Linked DNA regions of Homo sapiens: region 2 is linked to region 1. Evidence: fine-mapped expression QTL. A gene starts in region 1. The other region holds a variant in brackets. All regions are shown on one strand. Distances are from middle to middle.

Region 1 (5,379 bases):
AATTTTTATATTTTTAGTAGAGATGGGGTTTTGCCATGTTCTTTCTATTTTGGTTAAACAAGGGCTCTCTAGGTACTCTCAAAGTTGCATGGAGTCTGCTTTCTAGCCTTAGTGAGAAGTCTCCTTCCTGTTTAACCTTTGATTCCTACAGCCTGTGACTTTGGCTAAATTGTCACTTAAGGTTGCTCAGCCTGCTTCTCCACCTTTAAAATGGGCTACCAATTGGACCCACAACATGTAAGCTAATATTAGGATTACATAAGTGCTCCAAACAGGTAGACTTTTACTCCTAACCATATCCTTCTATTGAGCTGCTGTCCTATGCTCAATTATTTGGTAAGAGAGTAAGTATCTCCAGAAAGCTAAAGGTTATACGCCTAACTTCCCAATCCTACCCTTAAGAGCCGGTGTGGACTTGATCCATAAACCACTGTTCTGTGGTATGTACACGTGCTGAATTTGTATTCCCTTCTTGCAAATATAATTCTAAATTGGATGACACTTATAAATCATTCGCAGATTTCAACAGTATCTCAATTTTCAGAAATTACTTGGGATCCAATTCTGTCTACTTTTAATTTTAGCAATTAACCTAATAAGCAGTATTATAATTCTCTTCAAACTATTTTCTTTTTACTTAAAAACTACTTACAGCTTCCTCCTCTTTATCGACATTACTTGTCTGTGACAATTTAATGTTTCCATTTCCAAGTTCTCCACTTGCAGAAAATTTCACTCCGTCTTTTGCACAGGAAATTACAACAGCATCTCCAATATGGCTGAGATCTCGGCATATACGTGCAAATTCACCAGAAGGCATCTTTACTACACAGCTGTACTCCTGTTCCTATTAAGAACAAAAATTTTCCAAAAGTTAATTGTTAGAAATTTAATGATTTGGCACCCTCACTTTCTTAAAAGGCAACACCTAAACAACTCAGAATCAATATTTTCTGATTACTTTAAAATATGACTTGCGTAATTTCTTAACAAACTCCACTCAAAAAAATAAATGGCTATTAAATGCACCATCCAGGGAACAAGAGCCTCCTCCTCCTCATCCTCCAGGGATAAAGTAAGAGAACATTAGAGTATGGCACAGAAATCATGATGGCGCAAGCAGGCCTAACTACTTTCTAAAAGAAAGCAAGAGAATATATTAGGCATTTTCAACATTCAAACATTTCTTCTCTCCTTTGGTGTTTATAAACCTAACCTGGATAAATTTCTTCCAAGTCAGCTTTAAAATCCACTTAATAAAAAGCAAGCATTCTAGAAGGAAACAAATTTTAAAAGAGGTTCATGGAAGTTAATGCAAATAGACAACTGGCAGTAAACAATAAATTTAACCTGTGAGTTTTAGACTTGTGGTGAACAACTATCCAAATACTAAAATCTCTCTTTGAAACATGCACCAGTAGATATATTTCTAGAAAAAGTTGTTATGAAGTAGGCTTAAATTATATTAACATATCTTGACGGAGGAGGATCACTTGAGGCCAGGAGTTCCAGACCAGCCTGGGCAAGACTGCCCCCACGCCCACACACAAAAATGAAAAAATTAGCCAGGTGTGGTGGGACAGGCCCGTAGTCCTTCCTAGCCACTTAGGAGACTAAGGCAAGAGGACTGCTTGAGCCCAGGAATCCCAGGTTAGAGAGAGCTATATGGCACTACTGCACTCCAGCCTGGGCAACAGAGCCAAGACCCTGTCTGTAAAAATAAACAAACATTCTATGACATAACTATCGTGCCTGTGTACAGCACTCTCTACAATGAGAAACTGATACTCACTGGAATTCCAAGTTGTTCAACATCTAAATCCATCAACTTCATTTCATAGTCTGAAACTTTCTCCTGGTCTACCAAAAGAAAGCAGATGCTTTTGAGAAATACTGACACAGAGTTTTGATTTTCTGTAGCTTCGTGACTCGGTAAAAAGGTACGACTTACTTGGTGCTTCAAATACTAGCGCCAAGGTATCCGCGTTATCTTCGGCCCTTAGTGTAATGATATCTTCATTGCCGGCGCATTTTAGTATTTTGGACATACTAGAAGACAGGAGACACATGCTTTAAAATCAACGCCGTCTGCTGAAGGGCTGTATTTCGAACGCGGTTAGAAGGGGTTACCACTCTCACCCATCAGGCCGTCTCAGAACTGGTGGAGGGTAAGCGGACTGCTGGAGGATGCCATTATTAATGCAGACGTTTTGGGACGCATCTGGCAGTATTTATACTAAAATACCACCAGCAGTGTCCCTTCTGGATAGAAACAATCTCCTGCCACTAAGTAGGATGACAGGCTGCCACATTTCTCGCAAGGGCATTATAAAGCATTTAAAGTCAACCGCGACTGAGCCGGGAGGATCGCTTGAGCCCAGAAGTTGGAGACCAGCCCGGGCAACACACCGAGACCGTCTCAGAAACAAGAAAGCCACAGCTAAAGCGTCCATTCAAGGCCAACAGGATTTAGTGAGCAAAGAGCCCTGGAACAGTGTTCCTGGCACTGCGGAAAAACCCTTGATTTTCCCGCCACCACCCGCTTTGTGACTTTGGCGCGAAAAAGCAGGTTCGCGCAGCAGCCAGCGCGGGCTTTTCCGAACCGCGCGCTCAGCTGGGCCCCACCCCACTGCGTGGCAGGCCAATGAGAAGGCGCGGATGGCCCACGCCAGCCAATGAGGGCTAGGCTCGAAAGCGCTCCCGCCAAGCACCGGAGGTGCAGGCGGGCCGGGGCCGGCTTCCCGGGGCCGCGAGGCTCACCTGGTGAGGTTCACGCCCATGGCCAGGTTGCGGTCGCAGCGGTAGGTGTCGAAGCCCTCAGACCGCAGGGTGAGCTGCACCAAAGAGACGTGGGACGAGTCCATGCTCTGCAGGTTTACACCGCTGGAGCTAATATCCCAGCAGGCCTCGTTGATGAGGTCCTTGAGTGCCTCCAACACCTTCTTGAGGATGGAGCCCTGGACCAGGCGCGCCTCGAACATGGTGGCGGAGTGGCAACAACGCCGCTACAGGCAGGCGGGAAGGAGGAAAGTCTAGCTGGTTTCGGCTTCAGGAGCCTCAGAGCGAGCGGGCGAACGTCGCGACGACCGGCTGAGACCTAGAAAGACAACGACCACTCTGCTACGCCTGCAACCGTTTAATGCCGCCGCGTCCGCAAGCGCGCGCTCTCACCCTGCGCCGCGTTGCGACGTCACCACGCTGTCCAGCCCACGGCCTTGCGGGGAAGACTTTAGGGCCAATCGTGTCCATGCTCCCCGCGAGGCCCGCCCCCTAGAGCATACATTGGAGGAAGCGGGCGCAGGGCGGGGCAGCGTCGCGCAGGTCTCCCCGCCTCTTTGACTCCTGAACCCGGCCGCAGAACAAGTCCGGGCATATGTGGAGATCGGGTCCCGGTCCCGGCTCGTCAAGCCCCAGCTTTATGGTGGCTCCTCAGCCTCCCACTACGTGGGTAGAAAGTTTCCAGCCACGAAAGTGAAAGTGAAATGCAAATCAAGCCTACCGGGAGGAAAAGCCTCCTTGCAGCCTGAAGAGAGTACAGCTGCTGCAAATATGCACTTTATTTTTCAATTACAGAATTGATGCGCTCGTAGGTGTCACAAGATAAAGAGGTGAATTGTTCTGTTAAACTTAGCTCCCTATCATCCTCTTAACATTCCCCCGCCAGCTCTTATAATCACTCAATCGTTCATTGTATAAAGCTTTTAAAGCTTTTTTAAAAGTTCGAATACACTTTTTTTTTTTCAAAAATGCACTCATTCCGTAAACACTTGGAAAAGTACTTAATAAAGTACATTTAATTTTATGCCACGTACATCTTTTATCATATCAGTACCTCTTTAAAACATAGCATCACATGTATATAACATAATTTATCAATCTCCTGTTGTTTAACTACAAACACCTTTGAGCACTTAGGCAATTTTGGTGATATCAACTCCTTGAAGTAATACAGCTGAGTCAAAGAGCGTACACATTTAATATTTTTTCTTTTCTTTTCCTTTCTTTTTGAGATGGAGTCCTGCTCTGTCATCCAGGCTGGAGTACAGTGGCGCGATCTCAGCTCATTGCAACCTCCGCCTCCCAGGTTCAAGTGAGTCTCCTGCCTCAGCCTCCCGAGTATCTGGGATTACAGGTGCCTACCACCACCCCCGGCTAATTTTTGTATTATTATTATTATTTTTTTTTAGTAGAGACGGGGTTTCACCATGTTGGCCAGGCTGGTCTTGAACACCTGACCTGAGGTGATCCACCTGCCTCGGCCTCTCAAAGTGCTGGGATTACAGGCGTGAGCCACCACGCCCAGCCAGAAATTTTCAATTGTTACAGGATGGACAGGATTTGTTGTTTCTCTCTTGCTTTCTTCACACCACTTCTCTTTAGTTACTTTTAATACCTTGGTCAGCAGAATTCTTTAGTTTTTCTACCATGTATCTAGGTATGGAGTTAGTTTTATTTGTCTTGTTGAGGGAACTGAAGATTCATTTCAAGTCTGACATATTCTCAATCATTATGGCTTCAAATATCTCCTCTCCTTAGTCTATTCTTTATCTCTGGAATGCCTTTCTTTCCTTTTTTTTTTTTTTTTTTTTTTCCTAGTTCAGCTGTGACTCCATACAAGGTTCTAAGATGAGTTTCACAGTCTCTTCCCTGGATTTTGTGGAGACTTAACTTTACCCTTCTGTATCAGCCTCTTAAAGCACTGGGTCAGCCTTAAAAGGGAACAGGAAAGGGCATTTCTATTATAAGATGCCTTCAATTGTAATATGTACCATTATTTTATGTAGCACAAGCAAGAAAACTGTCAAACTTTTTTTTTTATTATTTTCTAGAGAGGGGAGTCTCCCTTTGACACCCAGGCTGGAGTGCAGTGGCAAGATGACTACTCACTGCCACCTCCAACTTCTAGGCTCGAGAGATCCTCTTGCCACCTCCCAAATAGCTGGGACTACAGGGGTGCACCACTGTACCTGGCTAATTTTTAAATGTTTTTGTAGAGAGAAGGTCCCACTATGTCGCTCTGGCTGGTCTCCAACTCCTGGGCTCAAGCAATCTTCCCAATCGGTCTCCCAAAGTGTGAGATTACAGGCATGAGCCACTGTGCCCAGCCTCAAACTGTTACACAATGCTTTATCACTTAGAATTTCTTTTTTTTTTTCTTTTTCTTTTTCTTTTTTTTTTTTCTGAGACAGAGTCTCACTCTATCACCCAGGCTGGAGTGCAGTGGTGTGATCTTGGCTAACCGCAATCTCCGCCTCCTGGGTTCAAGCAATTCTCATGCCTCAGCCTCCTGAATAGCTAGGATTACAGGCATGCGCCATCACACCTGGCTAATTTTTGTATTTTTAGTAGAGACGGGGTTTTGCCATGTTGGCCAGGTTG
Region 2 (5,379 bases), 67 kb before region 1:
GGTTTCACCATGTTGGCCAGGCTGGTCTCAGACTCCTGACCTCAAGTGATCCACCCGCCTTGGTGAATCATGTTTAAATGTAGATCTTCTCACTAATTTCATTCAGCAGACAGTAAACTCTTTGATCTGCATATTTCTTTATCTCAGGATAATTTTATTCTCTTATAGTTTCAATTATTAGGCTTAATCCTTTTTGTTCTGATTTCGCCTGAGAAACACTGATTATATGAATGCTAGCATATCAGCTAGGGATTTCAGGGAACATGAATTGTCTGAAATTCATGTTTTAGAAAACTCAGACACCAGTGACTTAAAATAGGTGTTTATTTTGCTCACATAATGAAATGTCTAGGGATAGGCAGTTGAGGGTCGTGGTTCAGTGGAATAAGGATGTTGGAGCCCAAACCCCCCAGTGCCCTCGGCTTTTTCATCATCGTCAAAATTTGGCCTCTCTAACACCAGCCTCACCTCTAACAAAACCAAAATAATGTCAAGAAAAGAAAAGGGAGAAAGGATATTTCCACTGTGTCTCTGACCCAGCTTTGTGTTCTCTGCCTGCTATGATCCTCTTCGTCTGTTACTCTGTTCTTTTTTGTCACATTCCAGGCAAGCTTTTTTAAAGGTCATCCTCCAAAATGGATTTTAATGCTATTCTTGAATTTTAGTTTTCCTGCAATCCTTTTTGATATCATCCAACTTTCCTCTAACTTATCCTGCTGTCCTTTCATCTCAGTCATCTCTCCATGTGTGACGTTCGGCTTGCTTTTAAAAGGACTCAGAGTTTTTCCTTGTCTACCAAGTGTGTTGTAATACTTTTTGGAATGCCTGCTCAATCCGTTATCCTTCCCCCTTCTCTAAGAATAAGCTCCCTGGGCTTGGGAAAGATTTTATTTTATTTTTATTTTTATTTATTTATTTTTTATTTTTTTTGAGACAGAGTCTCACTCTGTCACCCAAGCTGGAGTGCAATGGCATGATCTTGGCTCACTCCTGAGCTGGGATTACAGGTGCCCACCACCACGCCCAGCTAATTTTTGTATGTTTTTATTATTTTTATTTATTTATTTGTTTTATAATTTTGTTTTTTTTTTTGAGACTGAGTCTTGCTCTGTTGCCCAGGCTGGAGTGCAGTGGCACAATCTCGGCTCACTGCCGAGCTGGGATTACAGGCGCCCACCACCACGCCCAGCTAATTTTTGTATTCTCATTTTTTATTATTTATATTTATTTTTATTTATTTATTTATTTATTTATTTATTTATTTATTTATTTATGACAGAGTCTCACTCTGTCGCCCAGGCTGGAGTGCAGTGGTGCGATCTTGGTTCACTGCAACCTCCACCTCCCAGGTTCAAGCGATTCTCCTGCCTCAGCCTCCCAAGTAGCTGGGACTACAGGTGCCCGCCACCACGCCCAGCTAATTTTTGTATTTTTAGTAGAGACAGGGTTTCACCATACTGGCCAGGCTGTTCTCGAATTCCTGACCTTGTGATCTGCTTGCCTTGGCCTCCCAAAGTGCTGGGGTTACAGATATGAGCCACCCCACCGGGCTTATTTATTTAATTTAATTTATTTTATTTTTTTCTGAGATGGAGTCTTGCTCTATTGCCCAGACTGGAGTCCAGTGGCATGATCTTGGCTCACTGCAACCTCTGCCTCCTGGGTTCAAGCAATTCTCCTGCCTCAGCTTCCTAAGTAGCTGGGATTACAGGTGCACACCAACACACCTGGCTAATTTTTGTATTTTTAGTAGAGACGGGGTTTCACCAGGTTGGCCAGCCTGGTCTTGAACTCCTCAAGTGATCCACCCACTTCGGCCTCTCAAAGTGCTGAGATTACAGGCATGAGCCATTGCGCCTGGCCACTTTCACTGATTTTTGCTGAACTCTGGTATCTAACATGAATGTTGGTTGATATTTTCATGTATGTTATCAAAGAAGACAAAGTAAAACAAGAGCTATATATTTCAGAACTTCACTTGTTAATCAGAGGTAGGAGAACTTCTTTGCTGAAAAAAAAAGATTATGAACACTGGAAGAACATTTCCTCAAATGTTTGTTCATGCTATTCCAATGCAAAGGCTACAGCTACAGATATGACATACTTTTATCAACATTTTCACTAGTATTTTTTTTTTTTGAGACAGGGTTTCCAGTTGCACAGACTGGAGTGCAGCAGTGCGATCTCGGCTAATCCCAGATGTTTGCAAGGCTGAGGCAGAAGGATCGCTTGAACCTGGGAGGCAGAGAGTGCAGTGAGCCGAGATTACTCTATTGCACTCCAGCCTGGTTGACAAGAGTGAAACTCTGTCTCAAAAAAAAAAAAAATCAATGAAAACATTCCGTTAGAATCAACTTGCTATATGGAATTAGAAATAAATGTATGTTTTAGGCTGGGCAAGGTGGCTCATGCCTGTAATCCACGCCTGTGGGTAGATCACTTGAGCCCAGGAGTTCCAGACCAGTGAAACCACATATCTACAAAAAGAAAAAGAAAAAAAAAATTAGCTGGGTGTGGTGGTGCGTGCCTGGAGTCCCAGCTACTAGGAGGCTGAGGTGGGAGAATCACTTAAGCCCAGGAGGTCAAGACTGCAGGCCGGGCGCGGTGGCTCACGCCTGTAATCCCAGCACTTTGGGAGGCCCAGCACTTTGGGAGGCCAAGGCAGGCGGATCACCTGAAGTCAGGAGTTTGAGACCAGCCTGACCAATATGGAGAAACCCCATCTCTACTAAAAACACAAAATTAGCCTGGCATGGTGCTGCATGCCTGTAATCCCAGCTACTCAGGAAGCTGAGGCAGGAGAATTGCTTGAACCTGGGAGGCGGAGGTTGTGGTGAGCCGCGATCGCGCCATTGCTCTTCAGCTTGGGCAACAAGAGTAAAACTCCGTCTCAAAAAAAAAGACTGCAGTGAACCGAGACTGTACCACTGCATTTCAGCCTAGGCAACAGAGTGAGACATTACGTCAAAAAAAAAAAAAAAAGGAAAAGGAAAAAAGGAGAAATACATATATTTTATCATCTGTAAATTGTATACCATATATCCCTTATATCAGAAAAATTTATAATAAACGTGTATATTAATATATATGCATTTTTTTTTCTGGAAAGTTGGCTGTAAAAACATCTGTTAAACATCACTGGATGGCTACCTCACATTCCCAAATAACATGCCTCTCATTTCCACGCAGATTAACGCATTGCCTTTATTTGTGTGTGTGTGTGTCTGTGTGTGTGTGTGTGTTTTATTT[G/T]GTTTTGTTTTGAGACAGAGCCTCCTTCTGTCACCCAGACTGAAATGCAGTGGTGCAATCTCAGTTCACTGCTGTCTTGGCCTCCTGGGCTCAAGTGATCCTCACACCTCAGCTTCCTGAGTAGCTGGGATTTTGAGATGGAGTCTCCTCAGTCCCCCAGGCCAGAGTGCAGTGACATGATCTTGGCTCACTGCAACCTCTGCCTCCTGGGTTCAAGTGATTCTCCTGCCTCAGCCTCCCAAGTAGCTGAGATTACAGGTGGCCACCACCATGCCCAGCTAATTTTTGTATTTTTAGTAGAGATGGGGTTTCACCATGTTGGCCAGGCTGGTCTCGAACTCCTGACCTCAACGGATATCTGTCAGTCTCCAAAAAAAAGTATATATATATATTTCAGGATCTGATCCCCCTTATTATCTGCATCTTATCACTGCTATCCCCCTACTCAAGACACCCTCTTCTCTCCTCTGGATTATTGCAGTCATCTCCTGGTGGGCTCTGCTCTGATACCCTTGCCTTCTTACCCAACAGCCTAAGTGGTCCTTTAAAAAAGTCAGATGACAGCCAGGCATGGGGGCTCGCACCTGTAATTCCAGTGCTTTTGGACGTTGAGGCAGAAAGATTGCTTGAGCCAGGAGTTCAAGGCTGCAATGAGCTGTGATCATGCCACTGCACTCCAGCCTGGGCAACAGAGCAAGACCCTGTCTCTGCTATTGTTGTGGGAAGTCAGGGACCCTGAACAGAGGGACCTGCTGAAGCTGTGACAGAAGAACATAAATTGTGAAGATTTCATGGACATTTGTTAGTTCTCCAAATTAATACTTTCATAATTTCTTAGGCCTGTCTTTACTGCAATCTCTGAACATAAATTGTGAAGATTTCATGGACATTTATCACTTCCCCAATCAATACTCTTAAAATTTCCTATGCTTGTCTTTACTTTAATCTCCTAATCCCGTCATCTTCGTAAACTGAAGATGTATGTTGCCTCAAGACCCTGTGATGGTTGCATTAACTGCACAAATTATTCGTAAAGCATGTGTGTTTAAACAATATGAAATTTGGGCACCTTGAAGAAAGAACAGGATAACAGCGATGTTCAGGGAACAAGGGAGATAACCATTAGCTCTGGCTGCCTGGGAGCCGGGCAGGACACAGCCACATTTCTCTTATTTACTATAAAAAAAGTCAGTTAAGACATTACAAAGTCCTTCTTCTGTCCAAAACCCTCTGTTATGGGCTGAATTGTGTCCCCCTCCAATTCAGTTCATATGTTGAAGTTCTAAGCCCCAGTACCTCAAAATGTAACTGTATTTGGGGATAGAGTCTTCAAAGAGGCAATTACGTTAAAACGAGGTCATTAGGGTGGGGTCTAATGTGTATGACTTATGTGTTTATTAGAAGAGGAAAATGGAGGCCAGGTGCAGCGGCTTATGCCTGTAATCCCGGCACTTTGGGAGGTCAAGGTGGGCAGATCGCTAGAGCCCAGCAGTTCGAGACCAGCTTGGGCAACACAGCAGAACCCCGATTCCATAAAAAAATATAAAAATTAGCCGGGCGTGGTGGTGTGCACCTGTAGTCCCACCAGCTATTTGGGAAGCTGAGGTGGGGGAATCACTTGAGTCCTGGAGATCGAGGCTGCAGTGACAAAAAAGAAGAAGCCAGATGCAGTGGCTCACACCTCTAATCTCAGCACTTTGGGAGGCTGAGGCAGGTGGATCACTTCAGGTCAGGAGTTCGAGACCAGCCTGGCCAACATGGTGAAACCGCGTGTCTACTAAAAATACAAAAATTAGCTGGGCTTGGTGGTAGGTGCCTGTAATCCCAGCTACTCGAGAGGCTGAGGCAGGAGAATTACTTGAACCCGGGAGGTGGAGGTTGTTGTAAGCCGAGACCATGCCACTGCACTCCAGCCAAAGTGAGACTCCACCTCAAAAAAAAAAAAAAAAAAAAAAAGAGGAAAATTGGACACCACACATAAAGGGAAGACCATGTGAAGTTATAGAAGAAGACTGCCATCTCAACAAGCCAAGGAAAGAGGCCTGAGGAGAAACCAACCCTGCTGACACCTTGGTCTTGGACTTCAAGCCTCCAGAATGGTGACAAAATTAGTTTCTGTTGTTTAAGCCA

Direction of the effects. Positions count from the first base shown, and alleles are read on the strand shown. Sizes are in standard deviations (SD) of each study's normalised expression.
With allele G in place of T in region 2, the expression in monocytes of the gene that starts at base 3,141 in region 1 is lower (moderate effect, 0.55 SD a copy in Quach 2016).

What was found. PIP is the estimated chance that this variant, and not a neighbour inherited with it, causes the effect.
Region 2: its variant is the best candidate, but not a certain one, in a credible set for the expression of PCNA in monocytes (Quach 2016, PIP 0.90).

What each region holds. Positions count from the first base shown.
Region 1 is chr20:5,116,818-5,122,196 of GRCh38, forward strand. It overlaps PCNA (proliferating cell nuclear antigen), which reads right to left and starts at 3,141. Exons shown (of 6, transcript NM_182649.2): 1 at 2,761-3,141; 2 at 1,952-2,049; 3 at 1,793-1,860; 4 at 653-847. The coding sequence starts at 2,981. It overlaps PCNA-AS1 (PCNA antisense RNA 1), which reads left to right and starts at 2,769. Exons shown (of 1, transcript NR_028370.1): 1 at 2,769-3,152. It overlaps LOC124900464 (small nucleolar RNA SNORA26), which reads right to left and starts at 4,722; the gene lies at 4,600-4,722. RefSeq lists enhancers at 1,715-2,595, 2,335-2,484, 2,596-3,476, 2,925-3,094, 3,225-3,674 and a silencer at 2,675-2,734.
Region 2 is chr20:5,049,551-5,054,929 of GRCh38, forward strand. No RefSeq gene overlaps it. Among named protein-coding and RNA genes, the nearest start is that of SLC23A2, 51 kb to the left of the region's middle. The variant G/T (reference allele first, on the strand shown) is at 3,250.